Regions from separate parts of the Homo sapiens genome. Here all the other regions are linked to region 2. Evidence: fine-mapped expression QTL. A gene starts in region 2. Each other region holds a variant in brackets. All regions are shown on one strand. Distances are from middle to middle. Region 1 overlaps UBE3D (ubiquitin protein ligase E3D). Region 2 holds the start of RWDD2A (RWD domain containing 2A). Region 3 holds the start of UBE3D (ubiquitin protein ligase E3D).

Region 1 (7,909 bases), 290 kb after region 2:
TTGGTAATGAAGCTTTTTGCTGTGTCCCCAAATACTGCATTTCAAAACTTCAATTCTGGTCCTTTACCATGTAGGAAGATGATTGGAGAGTACACAATGAACTGATGATCAAGTCTTGCATTAAGGTAATAAATGAAAAGACTGTCACAAAATCTATTCATGTCCCCCCTGAGTTTTTTTTTTTTTTTTTTTTTTTTTTTGCCAAAATGTTCTTGCTGTGACCTACTTCTACAGATAAGAAAAATGATTTTTCCATCCTTCTATGACATTATGGCTATAGTGAACTGTTCCCAAGTGTCTTGGTGTAGGTGGCCTTGTGAGGATAAGAATTAATTATTTTTAGACTGCTGATGCATCACCTCTGTGGTGTCTATATTTGTCTTCTAAGAATGCATCATCACTCTCTAATTATAGGTGATCTGGTGGGATTAGATCTTTTGAGTTAAACAGACTAGGATGACACAAAATATGCATGGAAAGTAAACATTTGAAAAATTGGTGAGCCACAGTGATTGTTAAGATCCCAACTATACTGCAGTGTTCAGAATAACACTCAGAACAATCTTCACATTGTCAGTGTCACCACCTGCCTAATTCCTACATTTTAAATCAGTTGCCAATTGAGTTTATTTTTATGTTTTCAACTTGAAAATGTATCACCTAATTCTAATTCTTGGACTCTTGCAATGTTACCCCAACAGCTTTTGTGAAAGAAAGAAAAAAAAATAGGAAATCACCATGGAACCTCTGGAATGCTGCTCTGTGACAGCCGTCTCTGCAGAACCAGGAGAGCAGTGAGGGCTGTGGCACCTTGGTCTCAACTTTGAGGCTTGTGAGGCAGTACAGAGCAGAGCTCTGAGCAAAGTTTTAAAGAGCAGATCATTTTCTGGGCAGGATGTTTTGCCAAGTAATGTGGAAGTAATAGAGTACTGGGGTTGAAAATAACAAATCTCCCAGTCTCTTTTCAGCTCCATCCTATAAAAGGTTATTTTCTCTGATGTTGATGCAGAAAAGTAATAAACCTAGATTCTAGTTATATAATTAATTTGTCCAATCATTCATTCCAGGCAACAAATATTTACTGAAAACCTTCTGTGTACAAGACCTCATAGAGAGATATACAGAGATTTAGATAAGATGTTGTGCTTCCACATGAATGGTCCCTTTGCAGGCAGGAGTGGATACGCAAGGGTTTTATTGGGAAATCTAAAGCACAAAGTGTCGTCAGGAAGAGGCATTTGGTTCCCTACTCAGTGTCTGTGTGTGTGGACTGTGTCACAGGCAAAGTGTGGGAATTTAAAATCACCAGTGCTTTTCCTCTTTTCTTGAATCCCAGTCTAAGAAGTAGCTTTCGGGAATCACAAATTCAAGTGTTTAATCGATGATGAACATAAAGCTGGAGCATTTGAACACGTTGAGGGTAGTGACCAAAGTGCAAGGGTGCCTTTCTAGTCCCCCAAGATCACTTCTAAAACTCAGTGCCATTTTAAACAGTGAAGTTGGGAGGAAGGGGAAGGATCGCATCCAATTTCATTCCCCTACTGTGCAGCAGATGTGCCCACAGGAACAACTGCACAGTGCGATGTTGTCAGGTTTCCAAAAGAATTTAGCTAATGGGCTTCATTGCTCATAGACCTCGAATCCCAGAGAATCAACATGAAGGTGACAGACAAGTACAAAACTTGAAGCTTCTAAGAGTGAGTAAGTGATGAAGTTTTTGTGAGCAGCTTTTCCAACCTAAGAGTTCTAATTTGCCCCACCCAAAATTTGAAGCAGCTACCCTTGCACAAAGGGAAAGAAAGCAGATGTGAATGCTTATGTTAAAAGTCAGCTAATTTAAACCTAAGGAAAAAAATTCTTAGCTGTGGAGAGGGCCAGAATATTGAAGGAGCTCTGCAGCATCTCCTCTGGAGGCATTTCTGAATAATATCTCTTGAATGGCTTAGCTGTACAGGGCTGCCTCCAGGCTTAGCAGAGAATATATTCTGGGTACCATTGTAAGTGTTAGGGAAGGCCTGAAAATCACTGGCAGAAAGGCTAATGTTATACAGTTCAGATTCCCCCAAGGAAGAAAATGTTTATGCAATTCAACTTTGGTAACCTGAGTTGTAAGCTACTTGTTTTCTGCAAACATCAGAGTTAATAGTACCGGTACCCTAAACTACTAGTTCACAGCATATTTTTGGATCCATTTTTCTTTCCACTGAAGAACAACTTTTAACTTGTTATCAGGAATGTTCTCTTAGATTCAGAGAGAACCACAGAAGTCCGTTGCCAGTTTGTTACTGTGACCTGTGGGACAGGGGTAACCCCTTCAGAAGTCCTCACCCACCTGCACACTTGCCACACTCCCTGTGACTACTTCAGACTGCATTAATTGAGCACAGAGCCATGGGGCCAGGAAAAGTGTGGCACTACAGAGAGGGGCAAGTGAAATGCTGAGGCTTCCTGGGAAACCTGGACTGACTCACCTGCAGCCTGAGCCAGGCCCTGCTCCAGTCCCACACTGCTTTATGACCCCAGGACTGTCTCTGTGCCCTGGCTGTATAAATATCTCCCTGAGGCCTTCAGGAAGTTTCGAGTAGCATAGTACGTGAGTAAGTTATGCAGTGGAGGAAGGGAAGAAAGGAAGAGTGTATTTGAAAGGAGAGCTGTTGACAAGAAGTCCTATACCCCATCCATCTTTCTCCTAATATTTTTAATAAACATGTATTAAGCACAGTTTGTATATGTAATGCATTTATTGAACAGTGGAACTCATAGGATTGAAATATGAAATTTTTTCCCCCAATCTTCAACCACATTTTGGAGTTAGGAAAGGTGTTGCTGAGTTTCTTTTTGTTTTATTTCTTATTTTCGTATTTCAGTAGCTCTAGAGGTACAAGTGGTTTTTGGTTACAAGGATGAATTGTATAGTGGTGAAGTCCAGCCATTAGTGTCACCCAAATAGTGTACATTGTACCCAACTATTGACATTTTAAGATGGATTTTTTTTTATTGTAGAGAGCTGTCCTGTTCATCCCGGGCCTCTGCCTACCAGATGCCAGTAGCATTCCCCTAGTTATGACAACCAAAAATGTCTCCACGCATTGCCAAATGTCCCCTGGTTGAGAACCACTAATACACACCCATGTAACCATTATCCTAAAAGAAGATTTAGATCATATCCATTTCCCATAAAGTTCCCTTCAGGTGTCTTGCAGTTAATCGTTCCTCTTTGAAAACCATTGTCTCTATTTTCTATCATCTTAGATTCATTTTGTCTATATTTGCACTTTGTATAAATTGAATCATACTGTATGTACTCTTTTTTGTCTCGACCTCCCACTTTAACATAATGTTTTTGCAATTTATCCCTATTATTGCATTTATCAGTAGTTCATTCTTTTTTGTTGCAGAGAAGTATTTCACTGAATAAATATGCCACAATTTGTTCATCAGTTCTCCTGTTAATGGGCACTTAGGTTGTTTCCTATTGGGGGCTGTTTTGAATAAGGCTGCTGTAAATATTCTGGTAAAATCTTTTTGTGGACCTGTTTTCATCTCTCTCAGGTACATATCTAGGAATGGAATTGCTGGG[T/C]TGTAGGATAGATGTATATTTAACTTCTAATAAACTGCTAAACACTTTTGCAAAGTGCATGTGCCATTTTACACTCCCAGCAACCATGTCTGAGAGCTCCGGCTGTTCCGTGTCTTCATCAGTGACATCATTTGGTGATGCCAATCTTTTATTTAACTATTCTGGGTATCTCATTATGATTTTCATTTGCATTTCCCTAACAACCAATGATATGAGCACCTTTTCATGTGCTTTATCTTCTCTTGTGAAGGATCTGTTTTAAGGCTTTTTATCATTGATTGTAGGAGTCCTGTTCCCCTCCTACATCCCCCACCACTACCCGTAATTGGTTTGAGTTTTACAGGAAACTCAGGGACTGAGAAACCTTTGGCCATCTGAATAAATTTGATCTAAATTATAAAAACCACTGTGAAACATGCCTTCTGGATTTTGTTTGTTTGTTTCCATTTCCAAACATCCTGTGAGTTTAGAGAGTATTTTCCTTAGAGGTTAGAAATACTCCTCCTAATTAGCCAGACAGGTATGCAGAACTACTTTAATTTTCTATGGCATAGCCTTCCAGTGCTTACAGCCCCTACACAGCAACAGCCCGACCTCATCCTTCCACAGTTTTGACAAGCAAATTAACAGCAGGAACCTGTCCCCACATAAGGCAGTGAGTCACTTTTATAATTCCATGCCCAAGGGAGTTTTGTGGTGAGCCTTTTTCTGGAAGCAGTTATTTCTCACTCCTCCCTCCATTTTTCTTTTACCCATACAGGAATGTCTTTACCTAGTTTAAAAAGAATTAAGTTCTCTATCTAGAAAGATCCTTTTTTCCATTCCTATTTTCTGATAATAAAGCTTAGCTATTTCCTTTTAATTACAGTGGAAAAGGGAGGGACTCATGAACTTTCTTTTGTTTTAGTTTGTCCGATAAAATGACTCGATTGTTAAGATGGTTTTAAGACAGTATTTTCTAGCCTGTCCTACTTAGCTAACCAGATAGAAAGATTCATCTCTGAGTAGTTTAGAACCTTGTTTCTAAATAGGATACAAAGACACTTGAAGCAGGGTGTTTTCTTGCTGCACTTTGAAAAGGGAAGGCAGTGGCCTGCAGAAGGGGAGTGGCTTGTCTTATGTGTATACATGAGGTTAAGTGTTCAAAGTGCTTTGTAAGCAGTAAGGCAATCTCCAGATGTGGTGGCTAAGTACCATTCCCCACTAAAAGGAACCATGTTTCTTGGGAAAATGGCTGATTCTATGTCTGAGATAAGAAATGTACAAGACAAGACTGAGTTCTGTCTTACCATAAGTGAGGGAAAAAGTAATCAAATTATTATAAACTACTAGGATCACGTCAAAAGGACTTAGGCTCTAAGTTGAAGAGGTTTTTACTGACAAAGATGGGCAGGTTTGAGTATCAGTGAGAATGACTGCAGTGGATTAAAGCATATCAAATATATTTCAAATCCATGAATTCATAAGGACACTAAAAGCATAAAAGTGGTCACATTTCAGTCTTTGGAAAACTCTGCAGAACAAAAAGCCTGATTTCTTTGAAACACAAATTGCAAATGGAGAAAAAGGGAAGGAAGAGGGACCTATTAATTAAAAGCAGTGTAAAAGACTTATTAATTGTAATATGTGGACCACATTTGGATTCTGATTTGAACAAACGCCAACTGTTAAAAAAAAAATGTATGAGCTAGTTGGAGAAATTTGGTCACTGATAGGATATTTGGTTATATTAAGGAATTATTGATATTTTAAATGTGATCATGGCATTGTGGTTTTATTTTTATAGTAGTCTTTCTCTTTTAAAGATATATACTGAATTATATGTGAAGTAATAGGACTGGGATTTGCTTCAGAAGAGGTCTGTGGCAGGGATTTGGATGAAACCAATGGCCGTGAGCTCATAATCATTGTTTCTGGGTAATAAATGTATGTAGATTTGTTGTATCTTTACTAGAGAATATATTAACATTTGAAATTTTTTATAAGCTAAAAAAAACCAGTTAAGTACACTACAGATTGTTACTGTTAAGGGTTTATTGGAGAACAAAAGCAGATGTTTGAACAGGGAGGGAGGACTGCTGGGATGACTAGACTTGAGTAAGGAGCTGTGTCTTGCGGGCCTTGTTTGTTGGTATGTTGCAGTGAAAAAATTAGTATCCACTGATCTAACCTGCCCCAAACATTTTTCTCTCTAGCTTTTGATTTAAGTGAAAAATGTGTGGCTCTTCCTTCCACTTGAACATTTAGAGGCCACTGTAGGGTATTAATTGGCCTAATTTCAGTATTGTTTTGTGTGAGATGTTAGGGAGGCCCTAGGAGAGGGAGAAAGACAGGGTAACGGCTGGTCATTGGTACAGACAGAACAGACAACATTTATCGATTAAGTTTGTGGCTATATATGGGCATGATTTGTGGTGCCCCAAAATAATTACAATAGTAACATCAGTGATCACTGATCATAGATCACCGTAACAGGTATAATATTAAAGGAAAAGTTCAAAATATTGAGAGAATTACCAAAATGTGATGCAGAAAAATGAAGTGAGCACATGTTGTTGGAAAAATGGGGGCCAGTAGACTTGCTTAATGCAGGGTTACTGCAAACCTTCAATTTGTAAAAAATGCTGTATCTGCAAAGTACAATAAAGTAAAGCAGAATAAGTGAGATGTGCCTGTATTAGTAAAGGACTATTCAGCCAAATAGTTTCATATATTAAAGGTCCATGGCTTAATCATTAATCCTGGATTCAGAGTTGAATTTCTCAGGAGTGGATTATGTCAGCAATCCAGGATGTGCTGGTTTGAATCCCTAGGAGTGTTGCCCATTACAAACCTTTAGACGCCCCCTACACAATCCAGCCAGTGGCCTCTGGGCTTCAAGTTATTTTTCAAGGACCAGGTGATATTTTACACTAAGCAACCTACATTCTTATATTTGAAAATGCTATAGGTTTATAGTTTCTTCTTCAGATGCAATATCTGCAATTTCAGTGACTGTCACTGGTAGATGTTTTGTTACTTAGGGTAACATAGGAAAAAAAGCCTTATTTAAGCCTTGGATATTTATATACACAATTAGTCATTTATGCTTCTCCTTTAAAAATAAACAATTAAACATGAATTTGTTCATTAGCAGCAGACAGCAAAAGAGATGCATCTGCAGCAATATTTAAAAGAAACACTTAGGTTTAGTATAATAATATTAAGCTCTTCCATTTATCAAAGGCCTCATCTGTGCCATGGCCTGCCAGGCCATTTATGTCCTTTATTACTAATCCCCACAACCACTGGTGGGCAGAACTGGAGGGAGCTAAGGCTCCAAGAGGTCATTCAGCTAGTAAATGTCGGGGAGGCATTCAATCTCAGCTCTCCCAAGAGCCTATATTTTTCTGCTCTCCCACCACCTCTAGCAGTGTACAAACTGCTGACTTCTTACACTAATCTGTTTTTACTTCTCTCTGTGTAATGTACAGTAGTCCTCGTTTAACGTGGTTGATAGGTTCTTGGAAACTGTGACTTTAAGTAAAATGACGTTTGGCAGGTCCTTGAATAATATTGTTTCCTTCAATGTCATTTCATTATAACTTTGATGATAAAAAATTGGTTCATTATGCTTCATTTCACTTAAAGTCACAGTTTCCAAAAACCTATCAACAACATTAACTGGGGACTTACTGTACTTTATCTCCAATTCTCCAGTCTTTTCATATCAATTAGAATTCACCTTTCTGCACCTTCCTGGTAGCCACCTGAGACTTCCAGCTTCTCATGGAGAATCTACCGCTTTGAATGCTGAGAGTCTTTTTCTGGTCCCATACCCTACACTGTCCTTGACCTGGAAAAGTTCAGTGAACAGTTCTGTATAAAAGAACGCCCTTTGCCTTCCATGTGGCTAAAAGTAAAAAACCCAAGGCTTCTGGTGAAACATCACATAGCATCCTCTTCAGCTTTTCAGCTTGTTCCCCTCTGTGGTATGACCGTTTATAAACTCCTCATAAGCCATTATTTACCCCTCCTTTAAAACAAACAGGCTAATTACTGTTTTGCGATCCCCTCTTTATTTCCAGCAAGTCCAAACGATAGACTTAAGAAATAAATGGTATTTATTCTTAAATGGCTATATTAGCATGTTTTTCTTTTTAAAATTTGCATGTCTTAAGTATATTTTCAAAGGAATGTCTGAGTAGTAAATAGCTAAAGAAAATGAGCACCTGGTTACATTTTGATTCCTTTCTTGCCAGAACTTACCTGTTATTTAATTATTCCAAGTCATAATCGTTTTTACTGAACTGATTCAACTATGCTACTGTGACGTATCCAGCTTTCTAA
Region 2 (7,909 bases):
TTTGTAGACAAGGAACCATGTGTTTATCTTTTCTGGATAAGAATTAAACTAATACTGGTATCAGGATTGCTAGTATCATGAACTGATATAAACAGCCAGAACACATAGCATTGTGTGTCATCTTTTAACTCGTGGGACTTCATGTCTATGAGTCCTTTGCCACTGCTATTAGGATCTAGTTTTACTAAAACACTCGAAATAGGAGTTTAAAGTAAGAAATGAAGTAAACGGGCTGGGCGCGGTGGCTCACACCTGTAATCCCAGCACTTTGGAAGGCCGAGGCAGGCAGATCACGAGGTTAAGAGATTGAGACCATCCTAGCCAACATGATGAAACCCTGTCTCTACTAAAAATATAACAATTAGCTGGGCGTGGTGGCGCACGCCTGTAGTCCCAGCTACTTGGGAGGCTGAGGCAGGAGAATCGCTTGAACCTGGGAAGCTGAGGATGCAGTGAGCCGAGATCGCACCGTCTCAAAAAAGGAAGTAAACATGTCCTTCCTGTTCTCATTTTAAACTTGATTTAGATTTCCAATAATGAAAGACAAGTGGGTGTGTCACATGTGTGCTAGCAATGTGAAACAAATGCTATTCATATTTCTCAATTCATAATTGCAGTTTGATTTTTGATGTTAGTTATGGGCTTTGGATTCCTCTTCAATCAAATCAGCTTCACAAGTTAAATGGATTGTTTTTATTAATTTACAATGAAATAGTTTTTGAATGACTTCACACAAAAACCTAGAGATAACATCACAATTGCAATGTTATAAAGTTTAAAGGCCTATTCATTTCACTGTCAGTTGAAATTCGTTACCAGGTGAAAATTCTGGAGCTGGGTTTTGCACTGAGGATGCTACACAGCCACTAGCCTTTTTAATTTGGTCTTATTAACAGAAATACTGACTTAGTGAAATTACAGGCATAGGCCTCTTAATCGCTTTTTATGAGTCTGAACTTTTGCTTTCAATACCAAATAGTATCTGAAAAACATGCTCACTTTTGTGCTTCTTGAGAAATTCTAAGAATTGGCCCAGATTCATGTGATAGTCATTCCTTAATCCATAGTCACCATGAGCCTCAAGGAGTAACTCTTCAAAAGAATGGAAAAGGCGCAGGTCCTCACCATTTCCTTCTGTCTCCACGCTTTCAGCATGCTTACAGGAAATGTGCTTCCAATTGGGGTACCTAATTGTGTGCCAGAACTCCTCACAGTGCTCTTTGAAACCCTCCACACAGATTATACCAGGCTTTCCTGTCATGCAAAATCCAGTCACATCTAACCTTTTCCCAACATCCAAAATCTTTTTCCTTAGGTCCTGCTGATATATATGGTGACTGTAGATCCACATTCGGAGGAATGTGTTCTTGACTGGCTTTGCTTGTGTAGATGGTTCATATACAAGCTTTCTGTTCAGGAAATAAGATGCACTGTTGTCCTGTAGCCACTGGATTGCTGCACATACACAGAGCTCACCTGGATCAAAAGTCCCTATGTAAGAAGTGAGACCTTTGTTGAGAAGTAGCTGCTGATGTCTGTCAAGTTCAGATGACCGTCCAAACAGCTGCAATGCTACATAGGGGTAGCTGTGAGGCATGGTCACTTGCAAATCAATTTTCACCTTAAAATGAAAATCAAATAGATTTAAATACCATAACATCACATAAGCTAGTTTATCAATAGCAACTGCATGATTTTGAGAAATGTTATTGCTACTATTAAATGTACCAGGTACTTTACATACATGATTGCTTCCTTTTATGCATTATTTCAATATTTATTGAACAACTACGTGTGCCAGGTGCCCTTGTGCTGGGATAAAAAAGTGAATAAACCAGACACTATTTTTGCCCTTCATGAAGTCCAGGGCCTAGTGAAGGAGACACACATTAAACAAATAATTACATATAGCAAGTATTTAATTTCAATTGTGAAAAGCATTACCATGGAAAAGTGGAGGGTTCCATTGAAGTGTGTAACCAGCGGGACAGAATCCAGTCTGGAGAACCAGAAAGTCTCCTCTGAGGGAATAACAACTGAAGGATGAGTAGGAAATAGCTACAACAGTGGTTCTCAAATGCCCAGTCCACGTATTACCTATGCTATGCTAATGTTGCTGGAGATAAATGGATCAGAAGATGGAGGTAAATTCATTTTTAGTCTTTAGATTTTTCCATCCATATTTGCTTTCTGTGTTATGGTGCCATCAAAAAATCCACTCATTCACTCCTTAAAAGACAGTTATGTTACAGGAGATATTTAGATTTATGAAAATCATGATACATGTGAAAGGTAGTCCAACTGGATGGGTGAACAAAATAATAATGGCATAAGACTGCAAGATAGCGTCAATAAAAACTCCAGGTATATTTGTTAAAAAGGTGTATATGTTTACATAAAATTAAAGATATTTACTGAAGACAATTTATAGAGCATTCCGTATCTTTCAAACAAGGAAATATGCACCTGGAATATTTCTATCTTTCCTTGACAGAAAGCTCATGTTCTAGATGTTTCAATTAAAAACTGGGCACCTGGCAAACACTTAAATCAGGGTACCTACCTTGGGCTCTTCAATCTGGAGTGTAATTACAAATTCGATTTTTGGTGGCAGCGCCTCCCTTGTGCCTTCCAAATACCTCTTTATATTCGTCAGGGCATTTACATCTTCAAGTTTTACTTCTCCTTGGTTAGGAAACATAGAAAACAGCATTTCCATCTCCAGTAGCTGAAGCTGAAGGCTTTCTTTCACCGAAGCAGACATGTTGCCTCGCAATCAGCCTGCCTGGAAACCTCACAAGGCTCAGGGACGCTGGGTTTGTCAATGCCAGCCGGTATCCAGCGAAATTTCCCGAAGGTCCCTTTACGTGGAAGCAATTCTGCAGGAACGCTTTGCACCGAGAGCTAGGGGCACAAACCAGACACTTGCACTCTTCTTTATTTCCTGACTCCAAAATCTAGTATGCACAACATCCTCTAAAACACTCCGTAAAAACCCATATTCTGCGTACCCGGGCTCCGGGTTCCCGCCTCCCGCACCCCGCACTAGATAGGGGAATCTGCACTTTCAACAGGTGTTTGGAACTGTCCCGCTGCAGGTGGCAGGCAGACACCTGCAGACGCTCTGCAAGCCTGAATTCTGGGAAAGGCTGGGGCCCGGCTTCCAATCCCACCCGGGGCTCGGGCTTGGGCGGAGCCAGACGCTGCGGCGAGAGAGGCCGCAGTGCCAGCAGGATGGGCTCCGAGTTCCCCAGCGCCAGTCGCCACCCCTCGGTCCTGGACTCGCGGACCGCCCCCCCCCAACACCGCGGTGGCCTTTTCGCTTGGGCCGCATTCCAGGGCTCCGGACGTTTACGATTCACTGGCCTCTGCCCCGAGGGACCCAGGATAAGGGTAGGGGGTGTCTCAGAGGTCATTAAATAAAAGATGTTTACAGTGAGCTGGGGGAAGGGGGTACCCGGGGAGACGGCAGCCGGAGAAGGCTTCCCAGATTCAAAGGTTTGGGAGATGACCTCGACGTCGGAGAGGGGGATGCGGGCCGCCGGCGGCGCTCACTGTGGGCGAGGTCGCCCTGTCCGAGGCCCAGCGACGGGGCTGATTCCCCACCCCCGCCCCTAGCCAAGACCACTAGGAACCCCGGCTTCCCAGGAACGCAGGGCCTGCCGCCCCCAGAGGCCCGGATTTGGAGGCGGAGGCTGTGCCTCCGCGGCCGCAGTGCTCTGAGGGCCCGCGACCCTCGGCCCCAACCCCCGGGCCACCGCGGGGGCCTCACCCTTTCTGGTCACTCAATGGTAACAGCCCCAGACCCCGCTCGGAACCGCAGCCGCAGTTCCTCAGGCGCCAGCTGCGCGCGACCTGCGGCGAGGCGGGGGCGGGGCTGGCGGATAGTCCTCTGCCGTGATTGGCCAGGGGGCGTGGCGACGAGCCGGAAGCCACGCAGGGCCACGTCTGCGGTTCTGAGGACTGGGTTTGGGTGCAGACGTTGTTGCTTGGGCGCTTCTCCGCTGCGTGTAGGTGAAGGGGGCTTCCTGACCGAGGTAAGCCGGGCCCCGAGGCTCGGAGTTGAGAAGGGAGACTACCGGTCGGCAAGGGCTCGGTGGGAGCGGGACAGGTCAGATTCTCGGCCCGACGGAGGGGCTAGTGGTCTGGCGGGCGACTGACCGAGCGGCGGAGCGCGCGGGACACACCTACAGGCCCCTGCGCCCCGCGGGCGGGCTGGTCGGGACGGGCCGCGGGTCTCCTGCCGGGGCTCTGGTACGTGGACCTAGGCGGGGACCTCAGGGTGGAGTGCCGGGAATCACCCTTGTGCGGTGATTCGAGGGTAGGCGGGAGAGAGGCACCAAGGAGATTTGAAGATTGAATGGAGAGTAGGGGGATACTCTTAACTTTTTGCGTGGACGCTGGATTTGGCAAATATGCTTTCAATAAAGGCATTCGCAGAGGCATTGAAAGTAGTTGTAGGGCCTAAAACGCATGAAAGGATGAACTCATATTATCTGGACCTTTTTTTTTTTAATGGCTTTTTGGAGTTAACAGGACTGGTTTACACTCTTATGAATAATCATGACACATAACTGACTGCTCAGTTTTTACAAATATGTATTCATCCTTAGGAAAGAGATCTGATCACTGTCTTGAACTAAATTAGTTTACTGAATGCCAGCTTTTTCCAACTGGACAAAAGCAAGTATTTTTCACCATTTCTTGCAAGTTCTGTTCATTGAAGCAATGAAGGACAATAAAGAAAACAAAATTATGAGGCTAGCAGCTGGCGGACTGCTCCTCATCTCTGGGCTAATTGGGAATTAATTGACCCAGGAAATGTAGTATATGGACTACTGAAGGAAAACTACTGACTGAGGTTGGAAACCCCAAGTTCCACTTAATGGGAGTATCCCAGAGAAAACAGTATTAGTGGGCTAAGGGCCGATTTTTTGTTGTTGTTTGTTTTGAGACGGAGTCTCACCCTGTCGCCCAGCCTGGAGTGCAGTGGCGCGATCTCGGCTCACTGCGACCTCCACCCGCGGGTTCAAGCGATTCTCCTGCGTCAGCCTCCTGAGTAGCTGGGACTACAGGCGCGCACCACCACGCCAGGCTACTTTTTGTATTTTTAGTAGAGACAAGGGTCTCACCATGTTGGTCAGGCTGGTCTTGAATTCCTGACCTCGTGATCCGCCCGCCTTGGCCTCCCAAAATGCCGGGATTACAGGCCTGAGCCACCTCACCTGGCCTGTTTTTTTTTTTTTTTTTTTTTTTTGAGACCGAGTCTCCCTTTGTCACCCAGGCTGGAGTGCAGTGGCGCGATCTCGGCTCACTGCAACCTCTGCCTCCCGAGTAGCTGGGATTACAGGCGCCAGCTAACACGCCCGACTAATTTTTTTGTATTTTTAATAGAGAGGCGGTTTCGCCATGTTGGCCAGGCTGGTTTCAAACTCCTGACCTCAGGTGATCCGCCTGCCTTGGCCTCTCAAAGTGCTAAGATTACTGGCGTGAGCCACCGCTCCCGGCCGATGTTTTATTTTTAAAAGTAAAGGAAAAAGGTGGCATTCTTTCAGAAGAAGATATTGCTAGTTTTAGAGCAACATCTTAGAAGGGTGTCCTGATTGTTTTTAGCAAATGGAAAAAGATCTGGGTAGTCTTGGAGAAGAAACTGTTGCCTTTTGCTTTTCCTTTAAGAATATGTCTCTGTAGTTTGGGAGAAATAGCAAAAGAACCACAAAGATTTCTCAGATATTTGGGGATATGTAGTTTCAGTCCACTCAAGAATCTGACTTTAGGCCTCAATCCGTCACCAGCTATCTATGTTAATTTAGGTTAGTTTCCCTTTTTGTAAAATGAAATGATCTTTGAGCTCATTGGAGTCTCTGAATAGGTGTAAAATCTTCATTTTAGTTGAGAGTGGACCAATTTAAGTGTGCCCGGCGTCCAGGATAGTCCTGGAGCTAAAATGGGAGGAGAGTGGGGACAATCTGCTATCTGCCCTGAGTCTGCCCAGGAGTGGACATACCAAGTTGGACAACATCTTGTAGGTAATTCTAACCCACAGGACTTACTCTCCTGCCCATTGCTCTGTCAAACATAGGGTTCTTTGAGGAGGTTCAGGATGAGACAGACCTATTCGTTTGGGGTGGCAGTTTTTGAAGCAAATGGTTCTTAAGAAATTACTTGTTATGCCCGAAACAATATTTCTTAATTTTGTAGACATGGATTTAGGTGCTATTACAAAATACTCAGCATTACACGCCAAGCCCAATGGACTGATCCTTCAATACGGGACTGCTGGATTTCGAACGAAGGCAGAACATCTTGATCATGTCATGTTTCGCATGGGATTATTAGCTGTCCTGAGGTCAAAACAGACAAAATCCACTATAGGAGTCATGGTAACAGCGTCCCACAATCCTGAGGTAATGGGTTTAGTGCCCTGATAAAGCAGACCATTATTTACAAGACCAAGCCTTAGTGTCTGAGCAAATTGACCTAAAGTACAAATTCTAATTCTAGGAATGTGCCTTCTCATTTATATGTGCTTTGGATGTGAAACAACTTTTTTTTTTTAAGAGCATGATCATTAAGCTCATGATTCCTAAGGGTGTGGAAAGAATGAAAAGATACTGTCATTTTTTGGAGTGTCCATATTAGAGAAATAACAATGTCCTTCCAAATTTATTGATTTAAGACATTTTCAGTAATTGAAAATTGTTTCCTTTGTTAACTTAGCAGTGATTAAAGATATTGGGGTTGGGTGGGGAAGGGTAAAGATTTGAAAAGAAACATTTTGAACATTTTCAGACAGGTTTTTATAGCTCGGCAATAATTTCTTGTTCTGAATGAACAAACAGGTGAGCTTTGGCAGAATATTGATGACGCCTGATAGTTCTAGTCTTTGTGACAGTTAGATTTTAATCAAAGTATTCTTTTTGACACAATTATTTTTTCAGCTTTATTGAGGTATAAGTGATAAATAAAAATTGTATAATTCAAGTCATACAACACCATGTTTTGATATATGTATACATTGTGAAATGATTACCACTATCAGGCTAATTAACATATCCATTAGCTCACATAGTTACCTTGTTTTGTGGTGGGAATACTTAAGACGTACGCTCAACACATTTTCAATATATATTATTATGAACTATAGTCACCACGCTGTACGTTAGTCTTCCAGAACTTATTCATCTTATAACTGCAAGTTTATGCCCATTGGCCAGCATCTCCCCATTTCCCTTACCCTCTAGCCGCCACCATACTACTCTGTGTTTCTGTGAGTTTCACTTTTTTACATAACACATGTATGTTATGAGCCTGCAGTATTTGTCTTCATGTGTCTGGCTTATTTAACTTCGCATAATGTCTTCCAGATTCAACCATGATGCAAATGGCAGTATTTCTTTTTTAAGGCTGAATAATATTCTATTGTGTATATATACCACATTTTCTTCATCCATTTATCTGTTTATGAGCACTTTTGTTGTTTCTATATCTTAGCCAACCTCTTGACACAATGTAGTTATTCTTTATTAGCTATAGGCCATTAATACAGGGTTTGAATAATATGCTTCTATTTGATTGCTGGGGCTGTGGGATTTTTGCCTTTGTAGCTAAATCAGCAGCAAGTTAAAGTGGTGTAGGTCTGTGAAGGATTGTAACCTCCTCTTCCCCCAAACAAGGGCATTGCTTGTCCAAATATGTGATCATTATAAATGTGTATATGTCTAAATATGTAAGTCACCATAATTGATTGACTGATTGACTTCTAGGAAGACCCTCACATTTATTGCTAGTTCCAGAGGCACTTCTCAAAATGATTCTCTTTTCTTTCAGGTGACATTCACTGTGAACTACACTTTCTTTCCACGAATTTGAGCAGAACAGTGTTGGGAGGCAGTTTTCAGTGTCTGTC
Region 3 (7,909 bases), 130 kb after region 2:
GTCATTTCCAGGGATGCTAACGCGCCAAGTCACGCTCATAAGAAGCAGAGTGGGGCGATAGCTAGCCTCTCGCCGCCCACCTTTCTCAGCACTCTGGGCCAAAGCCTGGTTTTGAAAATGCGCGCCCCGCCCCGGCCTCCGGGGTCACGCGCCTTCTCGGTGGTGCACTCTCCGGCCGGCAGGTGGCGCTGTGAGCTGGTAGGCGGCGCCAGCCCTGCGATCTGGCACAGGCGCCTGCGCCGCAGCGGGGCTGCCGCTGGTTGGTCCGCACGTGGAACCTCTCCTGGTCCTGTTGACCCGGGCCCCTCGGAACCTCCAGCTTGGTCCGGTCTGGGACTGGAAGCCTGCCATGGCGGCTTCTGCGGCGGAGACGCGCGTGTTTCTGGAGGTGCGGGGACAGCTGCAGAGCGCGCTTCTGATCCTGGGGTAAGAACTGGGATTCTAGGCGCAGTGCCCAGCTCGCTTTACTGCTGCCCGGGGGTCGGGGGCTGGTGAGTCTCTCTCTGTACGAGGGATTTTGAGTTTCTTCTTTCCAGTTGCGTAGAGCCTCTCGATCACTCAAAGTGAAGCTTTCCCCTGTAGTCGGCTCCGCCACTCCCACCCCTACTGACAGTGTGGGTATCTTTGGGGAGCTTTTTAGAAATTCAGGGTCTCAGCTCCACACCAGACTTATGGAATCAAAACTTATATTTTAACAAGATTTCCAGGAATCAAATGCACATTAAAATTTGAGGAACAGTGATGTAAAACACTGTTGGCAGTGCCCGGCGTTTCCAACAAAACAATGCAAAAAATGATTTGTCTGTCTCTCTTCGGGATCCTCCTTACTGGATCAGTTCCTATGTGAGCTTCTTGTTTTGTAAATAACCTCGGGTCTTTTCGTCCAAAACTGCTCTTTGCAGAGAAACCACACAATCATTCAATAAACGTGAGTTTAGTGAACCACTAAGACAGGTTGTAGACTTCTTACTGGAGCTCGTTCATTTATTCATATTCTTCCTTCCAGTGAGAACGTCAAACTTGTTATTCGCTACACAAATAACTTTTAGGAAAAATGTTCTCTATTTTGTTTGACAGCAGTTTTAATGATTTGTGGTCCCCTTGTCTATTCCTTTGTGATCGCTGTTTCAAAGAGAGTAAGTTAGAAGTTAAAATCCTGAGAATGGTATTACACGGTGCCACAGGTAGATTGATGCTTAATTTTTTCCTCTTCCCTAAATCTGCCAGATATCTGGTGTGGCAATTTGGAATATGGCGTGAGAACTGAGTTCAAATGCTAGCTTCCTCACGAAATTAGAATAATTTAATCTGAATTTCTTCAATCTTGAAATGGGAATAATAGTACTCTGAATGTATTTCTTTTTCTCTTTCAAAATTTATGAATTTGGACAAATATCTCCAATTCTGGTGCACCTTGTAGAGTAATTAGGAACCCAAACCCTACCAAAATAAAACAAAAACCACACACACACAACAAACCCTCCCTTCCTCTCATGCAGGGGCCTTTCACAGTTCCCTTGGACTACTCTCCTTTGTTTAGGCAAGGTACCCGGGTGGCTCATGCCTGTAATCCCAGCACATTGGGAGGCTGAGGCGGGCGGATCACGAGGTCAAGAGATCAAGACCATCCTGGCCAACATGGTGAAACCCTGTCTCTACTAAAAATACAAAAATTAGCTGGGTGTGGTGGCGCGCACCTTTAGTCAGTCCCAGCTACTCAGGAGGCTGAGGCAGGAGAATGGAGTGAACCCGGGAGGCGGAGGTTGCAGTGAGCTGAGATCGCGCCACTGCAGTTCAGCCTGGCAACAGAAAGAGACTCCGTCTCAAAAAATAAAAAATAAAAAGAAAAAAAAAGAAACCTAACTTTGCTGGACTTAGTTTTGCCATTTCTTGAACTACTTATAAATGGATTCATACAATATATACTTTTTTGTTTCTGGCTGCATTCCTTCCATAATATTTTTCAGATTCACGTTCCATCTATGTGGCTGCATATATCAGTAGTCCATTCCTTTTTCTTGCTAAGTTTTCCATTGTATGAATATACCACAATTCATTTATCTGTTCTCCTATTGCTGGATGTTTTTCTTGTTTCTGGAGTTTGCTTATTATGAATACAGCTGTCATAACACTGTTGTATAAATCTTTTTTTGGACATACATTTTCATTTCTTTTTAGGTAAGTACCTAAGAGTGAAATTTCTGGGTCATAGGATAGATGTGCATGTTACTTTGTGAGAAATTGCCAAACAGTTCTCCAAAGTGATTGTACCAGTTTGCACGTTCAACCAGAAAAAAAATGAGTTTCAACTACTTTACATTTTGACTTACATTTAGTATTATCAGTCCTTTTAGTTTGAACCATTCTAGTGTGTGTAAAATAGTATCTTGTGGTTTTAATTTTCATTTTACCGATGACTAATAATGTTGAGTGCCTTTTCACTTGCTTTTTAGCAATTCATATATGTTCTTTTTAAAAGTATCTTCTAATTTTTTTTGCCCATAATCAGATTATTTGTCTTGTTTAATTGAGAGTTCTTTATACTGTCTCAAAACAAGAGCTTTCTCACATAAATGCCTTGTGAATATATGACTATTCTTATCTGTGACTTAACTTTTCATTTTCTTTTCTTTTTTTTTTTTTTTTTTTTTTTTTAGACAGCGTCTTGCTCTACTGCCCAGGCTACAGTGCAGTGGTGTGATCATGGCTCACTGCAGCCTCAACCTCCTGGGCTCAAGCAATCCTCCCACCTCAGCCTCTGGAGTAGCTGGGATACAAGTTGCATGCCACCATGCCCAGCTAATTTTTGTATTTTTTTGTAGAGATAGGGTTTCACCATATTGCCCATGCTGGTCTTGAACTCCTGGACTCAAGCGATCCACCCACTTTGGACTCCCAAAGTGCTGGGATTACAGGTATGAGCCACCATGCCCTGCCTCGTTTTTTTGATAGTGTCCTTTGATGAACAGAAATTTTAATTTTAATGAAGTCCACTCTATCGTTTTTTTATTCCTTAAGGGTTAGTTTTTTTGGTGTCTTAAATCTTTGCCTACCTTAAGGCTGTGAAGATGTTTTGGCAGGTTTATTTTCTAGGAGTTATATCGTTTTAGCTTTCACATTTTGATCTGTGATCATGTTGAATTCATTTTTGTGTTTGCAGTGAAGTAGGGATCAAAGTTCTTTTTTTGGTATAAGGATATTCATTTATTCTATCACCATCAGTTGAAAAGGCCATCATTTCTCCCATTAAAATAACTCAGTCTTCATGAGAAATCAGTTGACTATACTGTTTGCATAGTGTGTCCTTTCTACCTTTTTAACCTTTCTTATGTCTTTCTGTATAAAGCAAAAAGCTGTAAAAATACTGTATTTCCCTAAAAATAGCATAAAACTGTATGCTAGTTTTAAAAATATATAGTTGGGTGATTTTAAATCTGTTCTGATGATCTGTGTGTTCTAATTAAAATGTTTAGTATATTTTATAGTTAATTTAAATATTGGTGTTCTTGTTCCTAACTGCTATGGTTTGGATGTGTTTTGTCCCTATGTTTTCTCACTTTGATCCCCAATGTGGCAGTGTTGAGACATAGGGCCTAGTGGGAGGTGCGTGGTTCCTGAGGGCAGATTCTTCTTGAATAGATTAATGCCCTCCCATGGAGATGGTTGGGTGAGTTCTCTCTCAGGAATGGATTAATTCCTGCCATAGTGGGTTGTGAAAAAGAGTCTGGCTTCCAAAGTTTACATTCACAGATGTAAAGATCTATTTATATTAAGATATCTTAGCATTTTGGGATAAACTTTGGCCATTCATTTATTCAATCCACAGATGTTTATTGTGTTCTTACTCTAGTGCCAAAAATTCAAATTCTAAGTGCTGAGAATACAGCCATGAACAGTAACAACAGCAAAGACAAAAACACCTGCCTTTGTTGAGCATAGGGTTTAATGGTGGCAGTAGAGAAGAGGCGGCAGAGAATATACAAAATAAATATATATTTGATAGAAGTGGAGAAAAAAATTAAACAAAAAAGGAATGGGGAGAAAAAAGTTACAATCTTTTATTTCAAATGAGAAACTAACATTTGAGTATTAAACTGTAACTGGTGAGGTGTAGAACTGCCATACCTGGTGGGAGACAATTTCCCTTTGAGAGAAAGTGAGTATGAAAGGGTGCCTAGTTCAGAGAGATGCGGGTGAGTTGGGGGAACACATAGTAAAAGATCTTATGGCAGTGTGCTGGTACATGTT[T/C]AATAACCTACTCTCCATGAAAATAAACAAAAAGACAAACTAAGGTCTTGATTTGAAGCATTTGTTGATTTCTTTGGTGTGAATACTTTCACCACGTATGACCTTCAGCCTACCAACTGGGTGAGGTGAGTTGACCTGCTTTGCAGAACTCCTAGAATTTTAACAACAGGTTCTCCAAAGCTTGTAGCAGCAGGGCCTGCTATACCACTGTGCCTTATGGACCATCGAAAGGACTTTAGCTTGTAGTTAGAGTGAGAGATGAAGTCATTGGATAGTTTTAAGCAGTTGTGATACCTGACAGAATACAAGTCAATGGTGAAGAAAGCCTCAAGTATGAAATTATTGTATGAACTATGTCAATCAAACTTAGTCTTAAAGTAGGAATTCTCCTAAAGAACCATCATCCAACACTCACAATTGGGAAATGTGTTGCTACCATCTTACATCATTCATGTTTTACCAGTTGTCTACATAATATCCCTAATAACAGAAGAATCCAGTTCAGAATAAGGCATTGCATTTCACTGTCATGCTTCCTCTGTCTGTTTCAATCTAGAAGAGTTCCTCATTTTCCATTGACTTTCATGGTCCTGACACTTTGCAAGATGATAGTACAATCATTTTGTAGAATATCCTTCCATTTGGATTTGTCTTATGTTTCTTCAAGACAAGATTCAGATTTTGCATCTTTGGCAGGAATATAACAGAAGTGAGGCTTCCTGTCAGGTGGCACATGATTTTGCTTTGTTCCATCAAATTGGTTATGTTAACTTTGAGCACTTAAAGTAAGATAGTGTCTGCCATGCTTCTCTACCTTAAAGTTACTCTTTTTCTCTTCATAATCAGTAATTGGAGAGGTATTCTGAGATTATGTAAATACCCTGTTCCTCATCAGAGTTTCATTTTATTCATTTGTGTGTCAGTAAGGATACATGATTCTTACTGTGGGTTACTCAGTGGGTTTTATTTTTTATTTTATTCAATGGGCTACTTTTTTGTTCATATTATACCAGATGTGGCCAAGGAAGTCCTTTCTGGATGGTTTCTGCGTCTTTTTTGGTAGGTACCTGTCATTCTTTGATTTCTTCATGTTCCAGCAACATGTTCCAGGCATATTTCATTCTTTCCCTGTTACAGCCCTGGATGTAGTCATTTTACTGAGGAACTTTGTTTCTGGTTTGTTCATTTCGTTTTTTAAAGCAGAAAATGGCCTTTACAAACCAAGATCTGGGCACTAAGTGTACTCATCACTGTTGGATGTCGCTTCTCCCAGAACTAGGGTATGTGTGTATGACTTATATATGATGTCTATGTATGGTTGTGCCTACATACCTATGTACATACATGCATTTACAACCATCAATATTACTGTATCTATTTGTAAACATTGAAAACCATGACTTCACACAGGTATTTCTAATTCTGCCCCACCACCATAGGGTCTATTCTAGTTTCCTCGCTTTCTCTTTTTGTAACTCCATTCTCCCACAGTGAGAATCATGGCCCTCATTGTCCTAGTGGCATTTATTTATTTTGTCAGTCTCCCTCTATGTAATTAATAGTCTGCTGGCATCCTTTGCCACCTCCCCCTGCTCATTGTTGACACTCTCCTCACCTGCTTGGACCCTGTTATGGACTGAATGTTTGTGTCCCCTCAAAATGTACATGTTGAAGCCCTAACCCCCAAAGTGATGGTGTTAGGAGATGGGGCTTTGGGAGGTAGTTAGATTTAGATGAGTTCTTGAGGGCGGGGCCCCCCTGATGAGATTAGTGTCCTTATATGAAGAGGAAGAGGCACTGAACTTCCTTACTCTGCCATGTCTGTTGTTTAAGCCACCCATCTATAGTATTTTGTTATAGCAGCTGAGCTAAGACAGGCTCTGAAACCCCATCCTGAGCTGGCCTCACCTCCTGTTCAGATTTCCTCCTCACCTGTCTTGGGATTTGACACCCCTGCTGAGTGGTCCTCCTGGTGGATGCCCTCCACAGCCTGCTTGGTTTCTCATATCCATGCTGGGCCACTGTGTCACCACCCTTGCACTGATGCCTCCCTTGCTTGGCCCTATGGATGCCCTCCACAGTCTGCTTAGTTTCTCAAATCCGTGCTGGGCCACTGTGTCACCACCCTTGCAATGATGCTTCTCTTGCTTGGCCCTATAAAATGACTAAAGTTTTTGGGACTGGGAAGAAATGTGATAAACCAGAGATGGGGTGGCAATGGGGACTTAGGAACCCAGTGGTATCTCTTGCGGCACTTGGAAGTGTCAACTCTACACAGTCTAGTTTGAAAGTCATTGAGGTAGCAAATGGACATTGTGTTATCTTTAGAGCAGTGGTCAGAGAACTATGGCCCATTGGCCAAATCCTACCTGCAGCCTGTTTTGGTACAGCCTGTGAGCTAAGAGTTGGATTTTTCTTCTGTATCTTTTTTTCTTTTAGACAGGTTCTTGATCTGTCGCCCAGGCTGACATGCATTGGCGTGATCATGGCTCACTGCAGCCTCCTGGGCTTAAGTGATCCTCCCCATCTCAGCCTCCTGAGTGGCTAGGACTACAGGTGCGTGCCACTATACCCAGCTGATTTTTTATTTTTTATTTTTTTGTAGAGCCAGAGCCTTGCTTTGTTGCCCAGGCTGGTCTCAAACTTCTTGGCTCAAACCATCCTCCCACCTCAGCCTCCCAAAGTGCTAGGATTAGAGGAGTGAGCTACCTCGACCTGCTGATTTTACATTTTTTAAGGGTTGTTTTTTAAAAAATAAAAAGTATAATATGTATTCTACTTTGAGACCATACATGGCTCATAAAGCCTAAAATATTTACTATCTGGTCTTTCACAGAAATAAAGTTGCTGACTCTTGTTTTAGAGGATCATTATTTCTTAAACACCATTTCTTGAAATTGAACTTTTGACTCAGGTTTGAAACTGTCATCCCTGCAAAAAACTCAGATGCTTAATATTCTGTATTGCTAACTAAGTGCAGATCCATATGCTTTGAAAAGGAACTAGCCAGAAAGTAGCTATAAGATTTTCTAAGGCAGATTTCTAAGGCCTAACCAAGATCCACACCTGAGCACATGGTCTACCCTCTGTACTCAGATGACACTCAAGCAAATGGCTTGCTGTCTGCACTTAGTTGACACCATGTGGATGACCTGCTGTCTGCACTTAAGAGGGAGCCATGGTACTTTGTACCTCTGTTGCATTGCTAAGCGTATTGCAGTTTCAGAGGAGGGTCATTTCCATAGATGCCTTTATCCCCTCTATACTTTTGATGCCTGGGGGCTTTTGACAGGGACTGTGTTTTACTCTTTATTGCCTATACTGAGTAATTTGTGTTTGCTCTGAATTGGATTAGTAAGTCCTTTCACACCTGATATTCATACATCACTGTATCGTTTTCTTCATTAATTCTTTTTATTCTTAAAATTGACAGGTTTTTGTCTTGTATCATTGTTTCACTGAATCTTGGTCTCTTTATTAAAATCTTGTATATGAAATAACAGTACTTTGCTCTGATTTACTATAAAACATTATTTTAGTGCTCTTCTCAGAAGGAAGAACCAAAAATCTGTCCCAGGACTTGCATATTATGGTGATGGTGAAGGGCACTCTGATCAGATCTAAATCTAGTGTAGGTTGCTTTCCTTTATGATCTGCTTGC

The links. PIP is the estimated chance that this variant, and not a neighbour inherited with it, causes the effect.
Region 1: its variant is the best candidate, but not a certain one, in a credible set for the expression of RWDD2A in whole blood (TOPMed, PIP 0.51).
Region 3: its variant is the best candidate, but not a certain one, in a credible set for the expression of RWDD2A in whole blood (GTEx, PIP 0.60).

What each region holds. Positions count from the first base shown.
Region 1 is chr6:82,903,488-82,911,396 of GRCh38, reverse strand. The region is part of intron 9 of UBE3D (ubiquitin protein ligase E3D); the gene reads left to right. Among named protein-coding and RNA genes, the nearest start is that of UBE3D, 160 kb to the left of the region's middle. RefSeq lists a silencer at 280-480. The variant T/C (reference allele first, on the strand shown) is at 3,581.
Region 2 is chr6:83,189,307-83,197,215 of GRCh38, reverse strand. RWDD2A (RWD domain containing 2A) reads right to left here and starts at 3,859. Exons shown (of 3, transcript NM_033411.5): 1 at 3,773-3,859; 2 at 2,564-2,904; 3 at 1-1,621. The coding sequence starts at 2,764. The coding sequence ends at 944. It overlaps PGM3 (phosphoglucomutase 3), which reads left to right and starts at 3,951. Exons shown (of 13, transcript NM_015599.3): 1 at 3,951-4,037; 2 at 6,202-6,407. The coding sequence starts at 6,204. RefSeq lists silencers at 3,561-3,930, 4,231-4,300 and an enhancer at 3,489-3,988.
Region 3 is chr6:83,058,159-83,066,067 of GRCh38, reverse strand. It overlaps UBE3D (ubiquitin protein ligase E3D), which reads left to right and starts at 227. Exons shown (of 10, transcript NM_198920.3): 1 at 227-426. The coding sequence starts at 350. The variant T/C (reference allele first, on the strand shown) is at 4,249.